Homo sapiens: one gene and its partners. The protein of the gene in region 1 interacts with the protein of each later gene in a biochemical or structural test. Each region holds a gene or a part of one and is shown on either strand. Other genes may lie near its edges.

Evidence for each region.
Region 2: the proteins of GAS1 (region 1) and RET interact in a biophysical measurement, tested with the Homo sapiens proteins (one study listed by IntAct).
Region 3: the proteins of GAS1 (region 1) and PTPRA form a complex in vitro, tested with the Homo sapiens proteins (one study listed by BioGRID).

What each region holds. Positions count from the first base shown.
Region 1 is NC_000009.12:86,944,491-86,952,376, reverse strand, and holds the start of GAS1 (growth arrest-specific protein 1 precursor), read left to right. Parts: upstream 1-4,870; 5' UTR 4,871-5,597; coding exon 5,598-6,635; 3' UTR 6,636-7,886. UniProt on the Homo sapiens protein: Specific growth arrest protein involved in growth suppression. Blocks entry to S phase. Prevents cycling of normal and transformed cells. Binds 20(S)-hydroxycholesterol (20(S)-OHC).
Region 2 is NC_000010.11:43,101,062-43,108,084, forward strand, and holds part of RET (proto-oncogene tyrosine-protein kinase receptor Ret isoform a precursor), read left to right. Parts: intron 1-1,280; coding exon 1,281-1,568; intron 1,569-3,703; exon of another isoform or gene 3,704-3,890; coding exon 3,891-4,132; intron 4,133-5,314; coding exon 5,315-5,510; intron 5,511-7,023. UniProt on the Homo sapiens protein: Receptor tyrosine-protein kinase involved in numerous cellular mechanisms including cell proliferation, neuronal navigation, cell migration, and cell differentiation in response to glia cell line-derived growth family factors (GDNF, NRTN, ARTN, PSPN and GDF15).
Region 3 is NC_000020.11:2,876,474-2,883,496, forward strand, and holds part of PTPRA (receptor-type tyrosine-protein phosphatase alpha isoform 1 precursor), read left to right. Parts: intron 1-7,023. UniProt on the Homo sapiens protein: Tyrosine protein phosphatase which is involved in integrin-mediated focal adhesion formation.

The DNA.
Region 1 (7,886 bases):
AGAATTCTAGAGTAGATGGTGCTTGGTTTCCATGCAGTATCTGCCACAAACTGAAGTATTAATATTTTCTGGTTTTAAGAATGCAAGTAAATAAAGAAAACAAGAGAGTGAATGTGATATGGTTTGGCTCTGTGTCCCCACCTAAATCTCATGTTGAATTATAATCTCCAGTGTTGGAGGAGGGACCTGGTGGGAGGTGATTGGATCATGGGGAAGGGATGGAGGGAGTTCCCCCATACTGTTCTTGTGAGAGTGAGTTCTCAAAAGATCTGGCTGTTTGAAAATGTGTAGCACCCCTCTCCTTTGCTCTCTCTCTCCTGCCAGCCATGTGAAGAAGTGCTTGCTTCCACTTGCCTTCAGCCATGATTGTAAGCTTCCTGAGGCCTCCCCAGAGGCAGAAGCCTATAAAGCCTTCTGAACCATGAGCAGATTAAACCTATTTTTTAAATAAATTACCCAGTCTTTATAGTAGTGTGAGAACACACTAATACAGGGTGTCTGTGACTTAAGACTTCTGCTAAGTGGTTAGAGCCTCTGACAACTCCAAATGGCCAAGTGACATATTGTTGAGTCCTCTGAGGGCAGAAGTCTATCTCCTCCTACTTTATCTGGGTTATGTTGCTAAAGCACCAAAAGGTAATTGGTATTTGTTGATTGAGGTTTTTGTTCTTTCACTGAACCAGTCAACCCTTTTGGAAATATAATTTTATATTTTAAAACTTCAGAACTATTCTGTATTCTTTAATCTCTCAGGGTCTTTATTACTGTTCTTTGTAGTAGAAATGATTTGGACTAGTTCTGAGTTGGCTGATTTAGAAGACAAGAAGTGCTGATTCTTCATTCATTCAACTTATCAAATATTTTATTGACACCTATGATGAGCCATTAATTGAATGTAGAATGTGAAGAAAAGGAAAGAATTCAGGCAGATACTAGCATCTTTCACCTAAGCAATTGGACAGGAAGAAAAGTTCTAATGCTCTATTGTTGCATAACAAACCATCTCAAAACTGAGTGGCTTAAAAGAATATTTTTTTGTTATTTCTCAGGATTCTTTGGGTTGACTGAGCTAAGCTCTGCTCTTCTTGCTTGAGGCAAGACCAGAACTAGAGAAAGGTGAGTGTAGTGTCTAAAGTACAAAATTTAAGGAGGCACTCACTCTTGGAGTCTTGGAGCCCAATTATGAAGGTCAATGCCTCCTTACATTTTGCACCAAAATGCCTCACTTGCTTCACGCTGATCTTGACCCTGGCTTGGGGTCTCTCTCATGTGTCTTCAGTAGGATGGCAGCTAGAGCTGGAGTCACCTGAAGGTTCAGCTGGGCTGGACATCCAAGTTAGTGTCTCCACTCACAAGTCTGGTGCCTTCTTCACTCACATGGCTGAAACAGCAGGGAGCTGGCCAGGCATCTCTTTCCTTCTCCATGTATCCTCTACACATAGTAAGCATGGGCTTCCTCACAGCATGCGAGTCTGAAGGTGGTCCAGATGTCTTACGTGGTGACTGGCTTCTGCAGAGCAAGTATTCCAAGAGGCCTGATAAGGTTTGGCTCTGTGTTCCCACCCAAATCTCATCTTGTAGCTCCCATAATTCCCACATATTGTGGGAGGGACCCAGTGGGAGATGACTGAATCATGGGGGTGTATCTTTCCCATGCTGTTTTCATGACAGTGAATGGGTCTCATGAGATATGATGGTTTTAAAAACAGGAGTTTCTCTGCACAAGCCCTCTCGTTGCCTGCTGCCATCCATGTAAGATGTGATTTGCTCCTCCTTGCCTTCCACCATAATTGTGAGGCCTCCCCAGCCATGTGGAACCCTAAGTCCAGTAAACCTCTTTCTTTTGTAAATTGCCCAATCTTGGGTATATCTTTATCAGCAGTGTGAAAACGGACTAATACAAGGCCCGAGTAGAAGCTGCAAGGCTTCTTGTGATCTAGCCTTGGAGGCCCCAGAATGTCAGTCACTTTCACTATGTCCTATTGGTCAAAGTCAGTAAGGCCTACCCAAGACTCAAGGGGAAGGGGATTATACTCTGCCTTTTGATCTGAGTAGTAAGGATGTAAAGGTAGGGAGAAAAGTGATGGAGACCAATTTTGGAGGGTATCTACCACAGTAAGCCCAGTAAACAAATAGGTTTTGGGGATGGAAATTTAGAAGTGCTCTTGGGGAAGCTTAAGTTTGAGATGTCCTTGGAACCAAGTGAATATATACATATGGAGATCAGAGAAAGACTGAGATTGAAAACATCAAATTAGGAGATGCAATTTAAAATCAAGGCACTAGATGTGGTTACCTAAGGAGTTGAGAGACAGAAGGAGCCACCAGGCAGTAAAATGAGAGAACAGGGGAGTATGGAGTTTCGGAAGCCAAAATTTTAGAAAGCGCTTTGAAAAGGAGGTGATCAGTCATGGCCAATGCTGCTGAAACGTCATATAAGCTGAGGACTGAGAAGTGACAATCAGGTAGAGCAAGGTTTTGGTCACTAGCGACTCTACATAATCGAATGGAACTCGATTATGTAGAGTGAATCGAGTGGGGAAAGTGAGTAAAAGCAAGATTTTCAAGTTTTCATGAAAATGGGATAGTGACTGAATAGGGACGTGGAGTCTAGAAGGTTTTACTATTATGTTTTTTTAAGATAGAAGACAGTATAGCCTATTGTGGTGAATGGAAATGACACAGTAAAAAGTGGGCTGAGAACCCCTCAGGCTTGCAATGCTAATGCTATGTGACTGGGATGCAGAAGTCCCCAAAGCATGCAGAGCTCTTGGGCCTCCCTTAAACCCCACTGAGAGCTGTATCAAGGCCAAGGTGGGGCAAGTGTTACCAAAAACACAGCAACAACACAGAAAAGAAACATGTTAACTTTGAGAGCAGTGATTCTCAAAGTTTGAGAGCAGCATTCCCTGAGAACTTGTTAGAAATGCATATTCTTGGGACCCACCAGTCCAACTAAATCAGAAACTCCAAAAACTAGGGATCTGAGTTTTAGGATACGTGCTAAGGTTTGGGTCCCACTATTCTAAAGGAACTCAACAAAAATTCAAGTAAAGATGAAACCGAGTGCTGACTTTGTTCCTTATGGGCCTAAAATAACAAAGCTTTAAAGACAAGAGGGGATTTTTCAATTGTCTAATTGGCTTCGAACCTTACCTGTGGAGGGATCCCAGACACAGAGAAGGTGTCTGAGTTGTCCAAGTCCTCCAGGCCGGACTGAGAGGACAACTCCAAATAATAGAGAAAAAAAAAGAGACAGAGAGCCAGGGATATGGTTGTTTTGATGTGCCATGAAGTTGCAGCCTTTCTGGATTTTTTTAGTATCGATTTATATTGCTGTTTGTCTACCAATACTCAAATCAGAGCAAGACGGTCCGCCTTACCTCAGTCTGGCTCTTTTAAGGTTTGATTTTGGTTTTGGGGACTGCAGAGGTGCAGCTTCCCACGGCAGACCAAGCGCCTCTGAGGAACGCAGCAGCTTCAGCAGGTACAGGAAGATTTCCCGCAGCCGGAGGAATCTCCTAGTGCTGGGCCTCCGGCTGTGACTTTTGCCATTTCAAATTCACTTGGCCTCTAGGGAGAGGCAGACAGCCCGACGCTGAGCGCGTCGGAGCCCCGGCTCCCTCTGCTTCTGGAGAGGAGATTTAGCCTTAATTTTTGTGACAGATGGAGTTGATAGTCTCTCCACGGAAAGGGGAGGAAAAAAGCGCCAGTTTTTGACAGGCCGCAGACGCCCGCTGCCTCTGGTGGCGGAAGGCTGCGTTGCGCCCCAGTTAAGGTAGCTCGGAAACTCCCTCGCCGAGAAGGCAGAGGTTTCCTCTGCAGAGCAGCCTCCCTTAAATATACTGAGGGGCTGAAACTTACACTTTAATATAAACCTTTGGTGCGTGCCCATTTATTCCGTCTTCTGTCCTGTGACTGCGGCCAGGTGGTAATTGCTCGACATTCCTGAATATTTTTAATGCTAGTTAAATTTTTTCATTATTGCACGTGTTGCAAGCTTATCTTCCTAAGAAATTATTTCGGTTGATTGGATTTCGGTCTTGCAATTTGAAAACGATGCCTGGCGCACGGGCGGTACCTGCCAGATGGCCTAGCTGGGGCTGGGGGGTGGCGGGCGGGTTGTAAGCATCTCATCAACATCTCCCTAATAAAGTGTGTGCTTCTTTCTTGTATGCTTCTTTAAAACAGTTTCAGTCTCACATTTTATCTCTGGATTCTCCCCTTCCCCTCTGTGGTGATCAAGACCCAAAGACAGGGAGCCTGGAAGATAAACTGAGTTCTGAATCCAGTCGAAAGCACAGATGGGGGCCAGCGAGAATTAATAAAACTACAAAAAAAAAAAAAAAGAAAAAAAAAACAAACAAAAAAGGCCCGTGGCTGAGCCGGATGCAAACAGCTGCCCCTAAGCCCTGCCCGCTGGTTCTGTGCGCGAGCTGGGGCTGCATATCCGAGCCTCCTTAAGAGTAGGAGGAGCTCCGGGCCTCCGTCAGGCTCCCTAAGCCGTTCCTTTCAAGCCCTGAATGCCTGAATGTGAGCTGCCCACCACCCTCCCGCCCTCCCCCACTCCGCAACCCCACTCCAGCGGCTCGTAAAAAAAAAAAAAAAAACTTTCAACAACAACAGGCAGGACCAATAGCATCTCGAAAAGCCGGGAAAGGGGGCCGAGCAAAGGGCGAAAGAGAGTGGAGAAAGGAGAAAGCGGGCAGGCTCGGAGCGCGCGGGGCCGGGGCTCGGCGAGCCGGAGGAGCGTTGCTAATGTTTTTGTTTGTTTGCTTTTCCATGCATGCATAATGAGGGGGCACCGCGGCACCACGCGGGGGCTCCCGGCCCACTTTTGTATTTAAAGCCTCGCTGCTAACGAGTCTGCAGCCGGGCTCAGCGGATCCGCTCCCCGGGCTCTTGGTCACCCGAGAAGCTGCCGCCGAGTGAAGCCAGGGAGCCGCTCTCCGGCAGCGCCGACTTTCTTGTTCTCCCCGCGCTTCCCGGAAAGAGCTCCCCGGAGCTCTGCGGAGGCCGGGGTTGCCGCGGGCGGAGGGGGAGGGGACGCGGGGCGGCCGGGCCGCGGGAAGGCGGGCAGCGCGCGGACGCCGGGCCAGGAAGCGGCGCGATGCGAGAGACCGCGGCGGCGGTGGCGGCGGCGAGGCACTGAGCCCAGGAGGAAGGAGCCGCCGCGGCCGCAGCGCGAGCAGCCGGCACGGGGACAGCCGGCCGCACAACGGATCTGCAGGCGCGGAGCAAAATGCACCCGCCGCGCCGCGCGGTCCTGCAGCCCCGCCACGGCCCCGCGGCCCGCACCCCCCCGGGGCGACAGTGAGCCTCTCCCGCCACCACCGGGGGCCGAGCGGAGGGCTCTCGGGTGGGAGAGCGGGACCAGATCTCGACAGCTGTTCATTTCCAGGAAGCCACCGCAGCCAGAGCGAAAGGGGACCTTCTGCCACCAGCGGGGCATCAGCCAGCGGCGCGCATGGATTTATGAAGACACTCATGCAAGAAGTGGGCAGGACTTGGACAAACTTTTCCACCGGCTCCGCGTCCGCCGCTCCCCGCGCCTCGTCTCCTTTCCCCTCCTCTCCCGGCGGCCGCCGCTGCCCGCGATGGTGGCCGCGCTGCTGGGCGGCGGCGGCGAGGCCCGCGGGGGGACAGTGCCGGGCGCCTGGCTGTGCCTGATGGCGCTGCTGCAGCTGCTGGGCTCGGCGCCGCGGGGATCGGGGCTGGCGCACGGCCGCCGCCTCATCTGCTGGCAGGCGCTGCTGCAGTGCCAGGGGGAGCCGGAGTGCAGCTACGCCTACAACCAGTACGCCGAGGCGTGCGCGCCGGTGCTGGCGCAGCACGGCGGGGGCGACGCGCCCGGGGCCGCCGCCGCCGCTTTCCCGGCCTCGGCCGCCTCTTTCTCGTCGCGCTGGCGCTGCCCGAGTCACTGCATCTCGGCCCTCATTCAGCTCAACCACACGCGCCGCGGGCCCGCCCTGGAGGACTGTGACTGCGCGCAGGACGAGAACTGCAAGTCCACCAAGCGCGCCATTGAGCCGTGCCTGCCCCGGACGAGCGGCGGCGGCGCGGGCGGCCCCGGCGCGGGCGGGGTCATGGGCTGCACCGAGGCCCGGCGGCGCTGCGACCGCGACAGCCGCTGCAACCTGGCGCTGAGCCGCTACCTGACCTACTGCGGCAAAGTCTTCAACGGGCTGCGCTGCACGGACGAATGCCGCACCGTCATTGAGGACATGCTGGCTATGCCCAAGGCGGCGCTGCTCAACGACTGCGTGTGCGACGGCCTCGAGCGGCCCATCTGCGAGTCGGTCAAGGAGAACATGGCCCGCCTGTGCTTCGGCGCCGAGCTGGGCAACGGCCCCGGCAGCAGCGGCTCGGACGGGGGCCTGGACGACTACTACGATGAGGACTACGATGACGAGCAGCGCACCGGGGGCGCGGGTGGTGAGCAGCCGCTGGACGACGACGACGGCGTCCCGCACCCACCGCGCCCGGGCAGCGGCGCTGCTGCATCGGGCGGCCGCGGGGACCTGCCCTATGGGCCTGGGCGCAGGAGCAGCGGCGGCGGCGGCCGCTTGGCGCCCCGGGGCGCCTGGACCCCACTCGCCTCCATCTTGCTGCTGCTGCTTGGGCCGCTCTTTTAGCCCTCGCGCCCCCCGCCGTTGGCTGCGGGAGAGCCCGCGTCCCACTCCCGTGCTCGCCTCGACCCCGCGCCGGGCACCTGTGGCTTGGGACAGATAGAAGGGATGGTTGGGGATACTTCCCAAAACTTTTTCCAAGTCAACTTGGTGTAGCCGGTTCCCCGGCCACGACTCTGGGCACTTCCCCTGAAGCTCCTCTCCGGAGCTTGACTTCTTGGACCTCCTCCCCCGCCCCAATTCCAAGCTCCAGAAACTCCCAACTCGTCTGCCGTCCAGAAAGCTAGCTGCAGTGTTCAGGACGTCCGGGAGGAAGCAAGCATGTGGGGGACAGAACAGTAGTCCTGGACTCGAAAGGGAAGGTGCTGACCAGTGGGGCCTTAGCAATTTGAAGGGTTGGGAAGGAGGAATTATATTTGCAAAGGGGCTGTCTATTAGCATATTTCCTTTGAGGGGGCAAAAAAAAGTGCCAGTATCGACTTTTACAGATTGTGGCCAGTGAGGATATTATAATCCTATGTAAACAGAAAAGTCCCACTTACCGATTCATTCTTTCACTGTTTGTATCTGCGCCCAGAATTCTCAGTGACGTGGGGGTGAGGGTGGGTGGCGATTGCCTTAGAGGGAACCCCTAAATTGGTTTTGGATAAGTTTGAGCCCTTGACCTTAATTTCATTGCTACCACTCTGATCTCTTAGCACATTTCTTAGGATTAAGGGTCCAAAAATGCTGATCTAAGGGGTTGCCATGGTGTTGAACAATGCAACTTTTTATTTAAAAAAGCTCTGCACTGCCATGTATGAAAGTCTCTTTATGATGTTTGTTTTTTTGTCATTTTTGTTCTTTACATCAAGAAATTTTATGTTTAAATATGCGGAGAATGTATATTGCCTCTGCTCCTATCAGGGTTGCTAAACCCTGGTACATCGTATATAAAATGTATTAAAACTGGGGTTTGTTACCAGTTGCTGTACTTTGTATATAGAATTTTTATAAATTGTATGCTTCAGAAATAATTTATTTTTAAAAAGAAATTAAAAGTTTTAAACTCACATCCATATTACACCTTTCCCCCCTGAAATGTATAGAATCCATTTGTCATCAGGAATCAAAACCCACAGTCCATTGTGAAGTGTGCTATATTTAGAACAGTCTTAAAATGTACAGTGTATTTTATAGAATTGAAGTTAACATTCTTATTTTCAAGAGAATTTATGGACGTTGTAGAAATGTACAAATGCATTTCCAAACTGCCTT
Region 2 (7,023 bases), on another chromosome or scaffold:
TGATTTAGCAAATGACCTGCAACTCTCTGGAGAAGCGGCAGTTCCCAAGGAAAGCCTGACTTCTTATCAGCAGCTGGCTGCCCTTGTACCTGGCAGGGACTTGGGCCTGTCCCAGGTGTCCAGGGAGGAAAGAGGAGCAGTCAGAGCCAGAGTCACGGCCACATGTGACATTGGTAATGGGAGGGGTGGGGGGGAAGCAGAGCCCCTGTGACAGGAAACGGTGATGCTGCACCTGGTAGCTCCCATCCCTAGCACCCCTCCAGGGCCACAGCTTGCACAGCCCTCACAACCACCCTGAGCCCTGTCTGCTGGTGAGAGGCAAGCCTCAGGCTATGAATGCAGAGCAGGCATCCCTGCCCTACCCAGGCCTATCTGCCAGGGACAGCCAGGGTGCAGGGGAGGGAGGAGACTTGGGTGGGCAACTCCCTCCGGCGCAGCCCAGGCAGTTCCTGGAGGAGGCAGCATCTGAGGTTGGTCGTGGTTCTACGCACTTAGTTGCTGCCCTCTTCATCCTGAGCCTCCAGGGTGGAGCTTGAGGAATGGGAGTCCCTGGGTGGGGGCCAGTGTGGAATTTGCCCTGGGCCTGCATTTCGTAGGAGGCCTAAGCCCTCCAAGGTGGGGAGAGGCTTCATGCACAGCCAGTTCCTGTGGAGGAAGAAACCACAGGGTAATTTAACAGGGAGAGTTTGTGTAAAGAATTAATTACAACAGGGGATTGGAGCAATGAGGGACAGGCTAGCAAAAAGCAAAGAGAATGCCAGAGAATATGGGAAGAGCAGCTCTGAGGAGCAGCCGCCCACCTAGGGCTGAGATGGAGGCTGGGAAAGCCCTCGCAGCCCAGCTGAAATGGCTATGGCGCTTCGGTGATGGAACTTGCCGGAAATGCCCCCTCTAGGCATTGGGGAAGTATGTCTGCGGCCACTCCAAACCTCCTGAGGAGGGTGTGGCAGGGGGGGTGCTGGTCACCCCTTACTGGAGAAGTTGCCACCATCAGAGTTGGGGAGCCTTAGACCCAGTGCTCAACACACCTCCCTGAGGAAGGGGCCTCTAAGCCAAGAACTGAATGATGAGAGCTAGGCCTGTGGGGCATTGGTGCTGGGCAGCAGGGCTGTGCAGCAGAGGTAAGGAGGTGGCAGGCAGAGCTGGAACACCAGTCTGAGCCTTGTGGACCTTGGTGGGGACCAGGGTTTACACCAGCCCTGGAGCTCCTGCCTCCTCCCCATTCCCGACTGCCTGGCAGATGTGGCCGATGCCCCCACAGACCTGACTTCTCTCTGCAGACCGCGGCTTTCCCCTGCTCACCGTCTACCTCAAGGTCTTCCTGTCACCCACATCCCTTCGTGAGGGCGAGTGCCAGTGGCCAGGCTGTGCCCGCGTATACTTCTCCTTCTTCAACACCTCCTTTCCAGCCTGCAGCTCCCTCAAGCCCCGGGAGCTCTGCTTCCCAGAGACAAGGCCCTCCTTCCGCATTCGGGAGAACCGACCCCCAGGCACCTTCCACCAGTTCCGCCTGCTGCCTGTGCAGTTCTTGTGCCCCAACATCAGCGTGGCCTACAGGCTCCTGGAGGGTGAGTGCCGACCTTGTGGGGCCGCCCCACAGTGCCTGCTACTGCTGGTCTTGCTCTGCGAGCCCTTGACACAAGCCATCTGGTTTATTCTTCACCTTCATGCCATCAGTTCATTCAATATTCCAGAAGTACCTCTTGCATGCCTGCCAGGGGCCAGGTACTGTTCTAGGAGCTAAGGATATAACAATGAACACAACGGGTTGGAATCTTGCCTGCCTGCAGCTTTCATTCTTGTGGGGCAGACAGAGCGTCTGAGCATGCCAAGGAAATCAGGTGGCTTCTGGAAGGAGCTAGCTGGGGAGGAAACTGGGAAGAGGGAAACGCTGAAGAGGAGGGGAACAGACGAGGAGACCTCCATTCCTCTATCGTAAATTGGGTGGTCAGGGTGGGGGCTAGCAGAGCAAAGGTGGGAGGGTGCCGGGTAGGCAGGCCTAGCCCCTTGGAGGGCACCACAGTGTGACCCTCGTGTGCCTGGAGTGCACTGAGCGACAGGGAAGAGCTGAGGCTGATGGGGCAGAATAGTTCCTGGGGCAGGGGGCAGGTCTGGGAGTGGCTTGCAGGGCTTTCTCCGGAGGAACATGGGGAGCTATGGAAGACTTTGGAGGGAGGGAGTGCTGGCAGGACCTGACTTAGTTTTAAAAGGATTAGTCAGACTACTGTGTTAGGAATGGTTTGGGGTGGGAAGGTTCAGGGGCGAAGCTGGGAGACAATCAGAAGGCTACAGGAGAAACCTCTGAACAGGAGGATGTGGGGTGTGATGCCGGGATACGGGTGGAAGCCGAGGCATGGCGAGAAGCAGGCAGCTGCAGCCAGTCAGAGGGTGGGATGAGCTGGATCCCAGTGGAGAGGGGAGAAGGCAGCTGACTAGGTGCAGGGAGGCCCCATTTGACCATCAGAAAGTCAGGAAGTGGGGCTCAACCAGGTCACAGAGGCTGCACCGCTGGCAAGTGTGTCCTAAATTCACACTAACTTTATCACACAAACATGGCAAGAATATTAAAATCTCAGTAAAGGAAGACAAGCCATCACTTATGCTTCCCCAGATTCCTTTCATTCTCTGGGGCAGGGTTGATGGAGCACTTGGTTTTTTGCATGCTGCCCTTTTTCACTAAAAATTATGTGATTAAATTTAGTTTAGTGGGGGGTTTTTTGTAATCACACTCAACAGAGGAAAGCATTATATGATAAGCATTTCCCACATACGTAATTCATGCGCAAGGCATGGTTCTGCCTGGGAGGCTTGTGGAGTTGCCCCCGCCTCCTTGGGGTGGGTTGTGGGGTCTTCAGCGGTGACCTTCCGCCTTCAGCATGCCCCCTTTTCTGGATTATTTCTGGAGGACAAATCCGAGGTCAGGCTCGTTGAAGACTGTGTTGTGGTTCCTGGCCCTGCTTCAGGGGCGATGTAGTCTAGCGCGAGCTGCCATGCAGGGCACGGAGCATTCGCTTTTGTCTCGACATCCGGCCTTCAGAGGATGACCAGCCTGGCGACGCACTGGACAAGGAGGTGTAGAGTGGGGATGCACACTAGGCGGTCGGAAATCATTATGCGTTAATGTCACATCATACCCCAGATGTCCACTGTGTTTGTTTTCAAGTGGTAGAATCGTGGCTTTCTCACGTTCTCTAAAATGAACACATATTGCTTCCATAATTGAAAAAAAAAAAAACCTAACAGTTTTTAAAAAGCAGCCAAGGTCACCAATATGGTGAAAGGCCGTCCCTACTAAAAATACAAAAATTAGCCGGGCATGGTGGCGGGCGCCTGTAGTCCCAGCTACTCGGGAGGCTGAGGCAGGAGAATCGCCTGAACCCGGGAGTTGGAGGTTGCAGTGAGCCAAGATCGCGCCACTGCACTCCAGCCTGGGCAACACAGCGAGACTCCATCAAAAACAAAAAAAAAGCAGCCAAGGCCAGTAGCTGGCTCTCTAGGGCTGCAGTGCAGCTTGGGCTGAGGCAAAGCCACCCTTCCCCACACAAGGCCACTCCTGATCAAGGCCAGGTGGGCGGAGGGGTGTCCCAGTCCCTACTGGTTGATCAGGGTGCCTGGTCCTGGCTCTTCCCAACCAGCACGAGTGAGGACGCAGCTGCAGCAGGACGTAAGCACAGTCATCGCTGCAAACTGCAAACTCGTAAGCACAGTCATCGCTGCAAACTGCAAACTCGTGCTCCGAGCGCTGCCCTCCCCTGTGGAGCGGAGGAGGGGAGGCCTGGGGCCGCGGCGGTGTGCGCCCCGCTCTGACCGCAGAGCCCCCTTCCCGAGGAAAGCGGCTGGCCCGGTCCCGGCTGGTGATCACGCGGGGCCCCTGTCTGCTTGGTGCGCAGGTGAGGGTCTGCCCTTCCGCTGCGCCCCGGACAGCCTGGAGGTGAGCACGCGCTGGGCCCTGGACCGCGAGCAGCGGGAGAAGTACGAGCTGGTGGCCGTGTGCACCGTGCACGCCGGCGCGCGCGAGGAGGTGGTGATGGTGCCCTTCCCGGTGACCGTGTACGACGAGGACGACTCGGCGCCCACCTTCCCCGCGGGCGTCGACACCGCCAGCGCCGTGGTGGAGTTCAAGCGGAAGGAGGTGCTTGTCCGCGCGTGCTGTGGTCTACCCAGTGTCTGTCTCCGGCCACAGTTCGTTTCTCGGTCGGTTTAGTGTCCGTGTAGCCACCCAACCGTGTGGCCGACCATTCGCGCTTTCATTTGTCCTTCGCCTCCGTCTGCGCCGTCTGTCCTAGGGGGAGGGGAAGGGGGAGTCCTGCCAGCACCCAGCTGGGCCTTGCCTCGGGAGGCAAGGACCAGGACGAGGCCCGAGGGCTCGCGTCTGGGGCATACTTGTGCCGCTGCAGGCGGGCGCGGCGCGCTGCCCGGGCGGGGAGCATCTGCCGGGAGGGCACTCCCTCCCACCAGCAGTTAGCCCCCAACGGGAGGGCCCTTGAGTGACCACGAGCAGAGCCGGGGATTGGAGAAGGACGGGAAGGCGGATCACCTCCGGCGCCGCCCGCCCCGCCCTTCTCCGGCTCGCGCTGGTGGAGCGCGACCGCCACCTGCTGGGCCTCGGCCTTCCTGCAGCCGGCCCACCCAGCAGGGGCCGTGGGAGAGTGGGCGTGGGGACTGAGGTAGGTAGTACGTTGCCTTGTTCCGCTTCTCTGGGCACACCACGTGCAGGTTTGGCAGGGAAAGGGGGTCTGGTCGAAAGCACAATTTGTGAGTAAAGGCTATGTGGGCCTCCCTGGGGTGACAGCAGAGGCCTGGTGGGCAGAGCCATCCAGGTGCCCAGCGGCTTTCCTCACAACCCCCTCCAGCCTGGGGTAGGAGGATGCTTGGAACAGAGCGCTCTGATGTACACCTGGCCTCGGAGCTCGGCTCTGCCGGCTGTTCCTGTGTGACCTTGACCTGACCTTCACCCTGTGGGGCCCAGCTTCCTCAGGGGAGAGTGGAGGTGCTCATCCTGCTCTCTGGGGACCTGGATGGGACCTGCCAGCAGGGTGCCTGGGCATCGGCTGTAATTCTCCTTATAAGAGGTCTGCATTGTACCTGTTACACAGGCGAGGCTCAGTGGCTCAGGGAAGGTGACGGCCAGGCTGGCCAGTGACCCCGTGGGAACTTGAACCCAGGTCAGACTGTCCCCAGACCTGGCTCTGACAACACACATCTGGTCCACCTATGGGCTGTGTGGGACGTGCAGCATTCTAAGGTCTCTGGTTTTGGGGGGTCTGAGGGGCCCATCTCGCCTGCACTGACCAACGCCCTCTGCATCCTGCAGGACACCGTGGTGGCCACGCTGCGTGTCTTCGATGCAGACGTGGTACCTGCATCAGGGGAGCTGGTGAGGCGGTACACAAGCACGCTGCTCCCCGGGGACACCTGGGCCCAGCAGACCTTCCGGGTGGAACACTGGCCCAACGAGACCTCGGTCCAGGCCAACGGCAGCTTCGTGCGGGCGACCGTACATGACTATAGTAAGAGGGGCTGGTGGCACGGCCTGGCTAGGCCCCCAGGAAATGAGGTGCTCGCTCTTCATGGGCAAGCAGCACCCTACACACATGCACACCTGGCATGGCCCTCTGTGGCCCAAGCCACTTCCCCTCCACCCTCTGCCCAGCACTTCCTGTGTCTCTGCCAGGCCTGCCCTCCAGCCACCAGCAGGGCTTTCACCATGGGACCTCTCTCCCTGAGCTGATCCATGGCCGACCCTGGCAGGGCCCCACCACACCCCCCTGCTGACCTCACCAGGGCTCACCACCGACTGCAAACACACATGTCACCTGAGGCTTTCCTCCAGCCCCTGGCACTCCATCGTTGCCCCTAAGGCGTCCCAAGTGCTTACGGATTATTGCTCCAGCCTCAGCAGCTCTCTGCTAAACAGGCTGGTGTACAGAAGCAGCCCCGAGCCAGGTCAGGGCTTCTGAGCCCATTATCCTGCCTGACTGCTGACATGCCACCATGCTCACCTGCTTGCAGGGCACCTTTCAGCAGCGGCCTTGCTTCCTGCCTCCCTCCGCCACCTCCTGCAGATTTCTCCTGGGATCGCCTTCCAAATAAACCACCTGCATTTGGGGTCTGTGTCTGGTGGAACCCCAGGCCATGAGTCCTTCACCCCTTTCTGCCTGGCCTGGTCCTGTTCATTCCTCAGTCCTCCCCACCTCACCAAGCCTATGGAGGCCCCACTTGTCAGAGGGGAGACAGCCTCCTTGCCCTGGCACTGAACACCCTGTGTGCCAGAGTGCCCCTCCCATCATTGTTTCCACCACATGAGATCCACAGTGGCAGCACGCGGCAGGTACACCGATGGCATGACTTCCAGGGCTTGGCCTGCGGGGTCATTGGGTCTGCTGGAGGTTCCTGCAGTGGAGGGTAGTTCTGCCATGCTCTGGGGGAGCTGTCTGGAGGGCTCTAGTGTGTCCTTCCCAGGGCCTTGGTAATGTAGACCTTTAACCCCCCATGCCTCACACACACACACACACACACACACACACACACACACACACACCCTGTTACCCAAAAAACGAAACTCTGTAAAACATTTTAAAGAGGTTTATTCTGAGCCAGGATGAGTGACCACAGCCTGGAGAAAACACAAACCCAAGAAGCCTTGAGTAAGTGGTCCCCAGGTCCAAGGTGGTGGAGTTACAGTTTGCTTTTATACATTTTAGGGAGACAGGAGTTACAAGCAAGGACATAAATCAACACACAGAAGGTATACATTGGTTTGGCCCCAAAATGCAGGGTATCTTAAAACAGGGGCTTACAGGTTAGAGGTAGATGCAGAGATTCTTTAATTTACAGTTGGTTGAAAGAGTTAAGCTTTGCCTAAAGACTTCAGGTCAGTACAAAGGAATGTTAAGGAGGCCTGCTATGTGTCGCCTGATGCTATACAGGGTCAGGAGGGAAAGTAAACCACGTTATACCTGGGTAACTTAAAAAAAAAAGGTTTTTAACAAGATTTTATGGACCAGGCATAGTGGCTCACGC
Region 3 (7,023 bases), on another chromosome or scaffold:
TTTACTTAACATATTTAGGAAATCATTCTATTATCAACATATATAGAGAGTTATTTGTTCTTTCTGTTGACATGCTTTTACTTATTTAGTTGTATGGCTGTACTGTAACATCTTTGGGTTAAATATTTGTTTCCAGGTTCTTCTCTTACAGCAATGAATGTCCTTGTACATACTGTGTTATGTGCTCATTTGCAAAGTTATCTGAACAATATGCTTTTAGAAGTAGAATTACTGGGTCAAGGGATATGTCTGCATTTTTGATTTGCAGACATGGAGCCAAACTGCCACCCGTTTCTGGGGGGTTGTACCAATTTATCCTCTCCCCCAAAGTGTATAGCTGGATAGATGATCTTTGGAGAATTCAGGAGGATCAACTACGATGCTTTTTCAGCTATTATATGCCTACTTTTCCTCCACAAATCCTCCCCCACCCTATGCGATTCTAGCCAGTTTCTTTGAATTTACAGAGGGAGATGTTGAGGCTCAGAAGGATAAAAGTAACTTGTGCAGGATGATCAGTGCGGGTGGTGGTGGGTGTTTTGTTTTGTATTTTTGCACCCCTCATGTTTGTATTTGCCAGCACCTTTCATTGGAGGTGCTCAGTGTCAGTTTGTAAACATTATTGCATTATTTTTCTCCATTTTCACATGGAAAAAAATGAGATGCAGGGGAAGTTTGAGTTATGAGAGGGAAACTGGCCAAATATAGAATCTTGTCATTTTACTTCCAGTGCAATAATAAATGTTTCCAAATGACAAAGCTGAAGAGATGTTTTTTGTTTGTTTGTTTGTTTGTTTGTTTTTTGAGATGGAGTTTTGCTCTTGTTGCCCAGGCTGGAATGCAATGGCGCTATCTTGGCTCACGCAACTTTTGCCTCCTGGGTTCAAGCGATTCTCCTGCCTCAGCCTCCCGAGTAGCTGGGATTACAGGCATGTGTCACTGTACCTGGCTAATTTTGTATTTTTAGTAAAGACGGGGTTTCTCCATGTTGGTAAGGCTGGTCTTGAACTCCTGACCTCAGGTGATCCGCTGGTCTTGGCCTCCCAAAGTCCTGGGATTACAAGCATGAGCCACCGTGCCCGGTGAAGAAATGGTTTTTTAGTGAGTCTGAGTACAACAAAAATAGCAATAATATAACACTAACTTAATAAAACTGAACAGCAGGCCCAAAAATAGCCCAACATTAAAATTTATTTTAATGTATTCTCTATGGAAAAGAGAATCCATTAAATGTAAAACTATTTATTTTACTCTAAATTCACATCCATTTGTGTCAGTGTACAAGACATAATTTTTATAGTAGCAGTCAGTACATATAGAATATGATTTTTGAATTCTTCAATAGCATAAAATATTTTATATTTACTCATTTAAGTATTTGTTCATTTAAAATCACAGGCTGGGTGCGGTGGCTCACGCCTGTAATCCCAGCACTTTGGGAGGCTGAGGCAGGTGGATCATGAGGTCAAGAGATCAAGACCATCCTGGCCAACATGGTGAAACCCCATCTCTACTAAAAATACAAAAATTAGCTGGGTGTGGTGGCGCGTGCCTGTAATCCCAGCTACTCGGGAGGCTGAGGCATGAGAATCACTTGAACCCAGGAGGCGGAAGTTGCAGTGAGCCAAGATCTTGCCACTGTACTCCAGCCTGGCGACAGAGCGAGACTCCGTCTCAAAAAAAAGAAAAAAAAAATCACAGTATAGTATTCCATGCATCGACAGCTGTAGTTTTTTTTAAATTTGTTTTTGTTTTTTTGAGACAGGGTCTCACTCTGCCACCCTGGCTGGAGTGCAGTGGCATGATCACAGCTCACTGCAGCCTTGACCTCCTGGGCTAAATGATCTTCCCATCTCAGCCACCTGAATAGCTGGGACTGCACAGGTCTGTGCCACCACGACCAGCTAATTTTTTTATTTTTTGTAGAGACATTTTTATGTTGCCCAGGCTAGTCTTGAACTCCTGGACTCAAGTGATCCACCCGCCTTGGCCTCCCAAAGTGCTGGGATTACAGGTGTGAGCCACCACTCTCAGCCAACAGCTGTAGTTGGTGCAATCCTTTTTATTCTTTTATTTTTTTCTACCTTTTTGCTATTATAAATGGTACTTTTATACCCCTTGTTCAAATACTTCTTTTGGATTATTTCCTTGGACTCTTACTCCCAACCTGGGCTCACCAAGTCAGAGGATACAGTTTCGGTGCCTAATTGCAATCTGGAAAGGTTGAACTAGTTTCCAGCACTATCAGCAATTTATGGGGCCATTTCTTGACAACCCATCTAGTGCTATTACAAAGAAATGTAATGATACCTTGAATTAGGTTTAATTTACATTGCTTTGGAAAAAGAGACCAGTAGCTGATTTAGATTTTTTGAAAGAAGTACAGTGCTGTGATATAGATTATCTCCAAGATTTATGTAACTGAAGCCAACTTGTGGTTGAAGAAAGATTTGGTTGATGAGATTGAAATATTGTGGAAGTTTAGAATAGGATCATAGCAGTATAAAATATAAGGCTAGATGCTGTTCAGTTGGAAATACCAGGCATTGTGCCGGAAGCTGGGGACACCCCAGAGTAACATAGATGTGATGTCTGTCCTCATGACACTTTTAGGTTAGTGCAGTAGACAGACATTAAAATCACCTATGGTAATTATAGATGTGATGAAAGGGGAAGAATAGGGTGTCGGGAGTGTCAGAGAAGTTCAGCAGCTAAACAACATTTGCAGTTAAACATTTGTGAAGGCCCTGAGCTGAGAAGGGATTTGGTAGCTCAGGGCAGCGCTTCGCTAACTTGAATGTGCTCATGAACCATCTGGGAATCTTGTTAAAATGCCAAGTCCTGAATCAGTAGGTTTGGGGTGGGACTTGGGATTCTGTGTTACTAACCAGCTCCTGGGTGAGGCAGATGCTGCTGGTGGGTGGATCACACTTGGTGTAGCAAGGCCTAATTGAGAGCTTGGTGAGCACCTAAAACTGGCTGACCATGGTGAGCAGGAAGGGGCAGGTGGCTTGCAGTGACAGAGTAATTCTCTGCCTAGGCTGCACTTTAGATTCACCTGGGGAACTTAGAAAAATCAGGGTTGCAAATGCCCCACCCGCAGCCATTTTAATTTAATTGGTCTCAGTTGGGGCCTGAGAATGTGTATACAGTCATGCACAGTATAACGATGTTTCCATCAAGGAGAGACTGCATATGCCACAGTGGTCCCATAAGATTATAATCCATAATTTTACTATACCTTTTCTATTTTTAGATATGTTTAAATACACAAATACTCACTGTGTTAGTTACTTACAGTATTCAGTACAGTAACATGCTGTACAGGTTTGTAGCCTAGGAGCAGTAGGCTATACAATATAGCCTAGATACGTAGCAAGCTGTACCATCTCATTTTGTGTAAGTACCTTTTATGATGTTTGCAGAATTATGAAATCACATCAGGACTCATCCTCAGAATGTGTTCCATTGTTAAGTGATGCATACCTGTATATATATTTTAACTCCCCAGGTGATTCTAATGTGTAGCCAGGCTTGAGAACTAGAGACTAAGGACAGTGTTGAGACTAGAGAATGGCAAGGAGCAGAGTTGAGGGTCCTGTATGGCATGCAAGGATTTTGGACTCTATCCTGAAGGCAGAGCTAAATCTTTGAAGGATTTTTAAGCAGGAGAGTGAACTGATCTGATTTGCAATTGTTAAAAAGTTCACTGTGGCTGTAGTCCAGAGCAGTAGTTTTCAAATTGAGGTAGATAAGATGATCCAGGGGAACTGGAAGAAAATTTAGAACTTTTTATTGTTTTTATCTAAAAGATAAGATAAAACATTTAATTTAGGAATTGTCTCTGGCATCTTCTTGGGTCTATAGGTCAAACAGTTAATGTGTTAACTGTAGAACTTTGGGTGTCCTGAAGGAAGAGACTGAATTCTGCAGTGAGCAGAGACATATTTATACATTTGTTCTCCATGTATTGCAACATGTTGTTAACAGTTTATATTAACCAGTTCTCATTGAACTAGCCTTTACAAAATGGACATGCAGAGAAACCAGTGATCAAAGAAAATACTAATAATACAAGCACAAGCAAACAAGTTGTCAGAGCTGACACTTGTCCAACTCCTGTGATGAATTCTTGGTGAGCTATTCAAATAAGTCAGCTCTTACTAAATTGGAAAGTATCAGGAAATTTATAAGAAACATGAACTTTCGTGCTCTGTCATTAATAGGAATCTTGCTTTAAGATTCCTTTTAATCGTATGTAGAACCCAGCTGCACGGTGGCTCACACCCATAATCCCACTGTTTTGGGAGCCTGAGGTGCAGGAGGCCAGGAGCTCAAGACAAACCTGGGCAACATAGCGAGACCCCATCTCTACCAAAAATAAAAAATTAGCCGTGTGGTGTCACGTGCCTGTAGTCCCACTTACTTGGGAGGCTGAGGCAGAGGATTGCTTGAACCCAGGAGTTCAAGGCTGCATTGAGCCATGATTGCACCACTGTACTCCAGCCTGGGGGACAGAGGGAGACTCTGTGTCTCAAAAAAAAAAAGAGGAGGACCGGGCATAGTGGGTCACACCTGTAATCCCAGCACTTTGGGAGGTCAGGGTGGGTGGATCACAAGGTCAAGAGATCGAGACCATCCTGGCCAACACAGTGAAACCCCATCTCTACTAAAAATACAAGAATTCGCCGGGCGTGGTGGCGTGTGCCTCTGGGTAATTTCAGCTACTCGGGAGGCTGAGGCAGGAGAATCCTCTGAGCCCAGGAGGCGGAGTTTGCAGTGAGCCGAGATCTCGCCACTGCACTCAAGCCTGGGTGACAGAGCAAGACTCTGTCTCCAAAAAAAAAAAAGTATGTAAAACCTTGAGATATTAAATAATAAAATATGAGGCTGTCACCAGTATGAAGACATTTGAAAACCAAAAATTTGGAACATAAAAAGAACCTCTACATTTTTTTTGCAGTGATGTTTAAAGATAAAGGATATTCCATCAGATGCTTTACAAAATTTTGCTAACTTCAATTATTAAAATTTATATTTTGAGGGTTTTTTGCTTTTAAGAGACAGGGTCTCACTCTGTTGCCCAGGCTGGAGTACAGTGGCACAATGATAGCTCACTGCAGCATTGAACTCCTGGGCTCAAGCGATCTTCCCACCTTGGCCTTCCAAAGCTCTGGGACTACACATGTGAACCACCATGCCTGGCCAGTTTTTAAGTTTATTGTTCTTATAAAAGACAAAATGGGGCCGGGTGCAGTGGCTCATGCATGTAATCCCAGCACTTTGGGAGGCCGAAGTGGACGGATCACTTGAGGTCAGGAGTTTGAAACCAGCCTGGCCAACATGGCAAAACCCTGTCTCTACTAAAAACACAGAAATTAGCCAGGTATGGTGGGCACACCTGTAGTCCCAGCTACTCGGGAGGCTGAGGCAGGAGAATCGCTTGAACCTGGGAGGCGGAGATTGCAGTGAGCTGAGGTTGCGCCGCTGTACTCCAGCCTGGGAGACAGAGCGAGACTGTTTCAGGGGAAAAAAAGAAAAAAGACAAAAAAACACATACCCTTGGCAGATTCTTCCTGCCCCACCCCCAAAAGGCCCACTTAAACAAAAAATGGACTGATGTACTACATGGAAAATAATTTTGTCAGGAAATCAAAATACTGTTGGAAGATGTATAGAAAACATTGCTGAATATGTGAACAAACAATATTAGAACAAATTTTGCAGTGTGGGAAGTTTGGTATACGGTTATAAAAGTACAGAAGCTTCTAGCATGTCTCAGTATCGCTAGATACTCTTTTTTTTCTTTTCTTTCTTTCTTTCTTTTTTTTTTTTTGAGACAGTTTTGTTCTGTCACCCAGGCTGGAGTGCAGTGGCACCATCATGGTTCACTGCAGCATTGACCTCCCAGTCTCAAGTGATCATCCTACCTCAGCCTCTCAAGTAGCCAGGACCACAGGCATGCACCACCATACCTATTTTTTTTATTTTTTATTTTTAGGAGAGATGAGGTCTCACTATGTTTCCCAGGCTGGCCTTGAACTCCTGGCTCAAGCAATCCACCTGCCAAAAGACCTTCCAAAGTGCTGGGATTACAGGCATGAGCCACCGTGCCAACTGTGCCAGGCCTAGATTACCTTTTAATAGTTACATCCAAGAATAAGGACCACTTCTTTTGTGAGCTACTGGAAGAAAGTTGTACTGGAGAAGACATATTTTTAATAGTAAATGATTGCCTTCATAAGAACATTACTATATGGAATAATAGACTGAATGTAAATTAATGGAACAGCTGCTTTGACTGAACAAAAGAATGAAATTCATTCATTACTTCTCTATGGGCAGGCTGTTGAGTCCACTTATTTGTTAATTATCTTGTGGTAGAGTTGTTGATGAGTTTTGCATTTTTCTTTTTTAAAAAAATGCCAACTTTTTGTTATGGTAAGTGGCTACAGTTTGAGTAATCCTAATATGAAATCCAAAAGGCTTCCAAATCCAACACTTTTTTTTTTTTTTTTTTTTTTTGAGACAGGTTCTCACTCTGTATGTAGCCCAGGCTGGAGCGCAGTGGCATGATCATGGCTCATTGCAGCCTTGACCTCCTGGGCTCGGGTGATCCTCCCACCTCAGCCTCCTGAGTAGCTGGGACTACAGGCATGCACCACCATGCCCAGCTAATTTTGCAACCAGTAGGAATAATGCAAATAGTACAAAATCTGAAAAATACCTAAATCTGAAACACTTCTGGTCCCAAGCATTTCAGATAAGGAATACTCAACCTGAACCTAGCAAATATCATTTGAAAAAATAATATCTTAATCTGTCTCTTCAAGTAAAAGTATTATTTAAATAGTGAGTGAAAAAGGAACTACTTCTTTTCTTAGAAAGAAATGTGCAGGCCGGGCGCGGTGGCTCACGCCTGTAATCCCAGCACTTTGGGAGGCCGAGGCGGGCGGATCACGAGGTCAGGAGATCGAGACCATCCTGGCTAACACGGTGAAACCCCGTCTCCACTAAAAATAC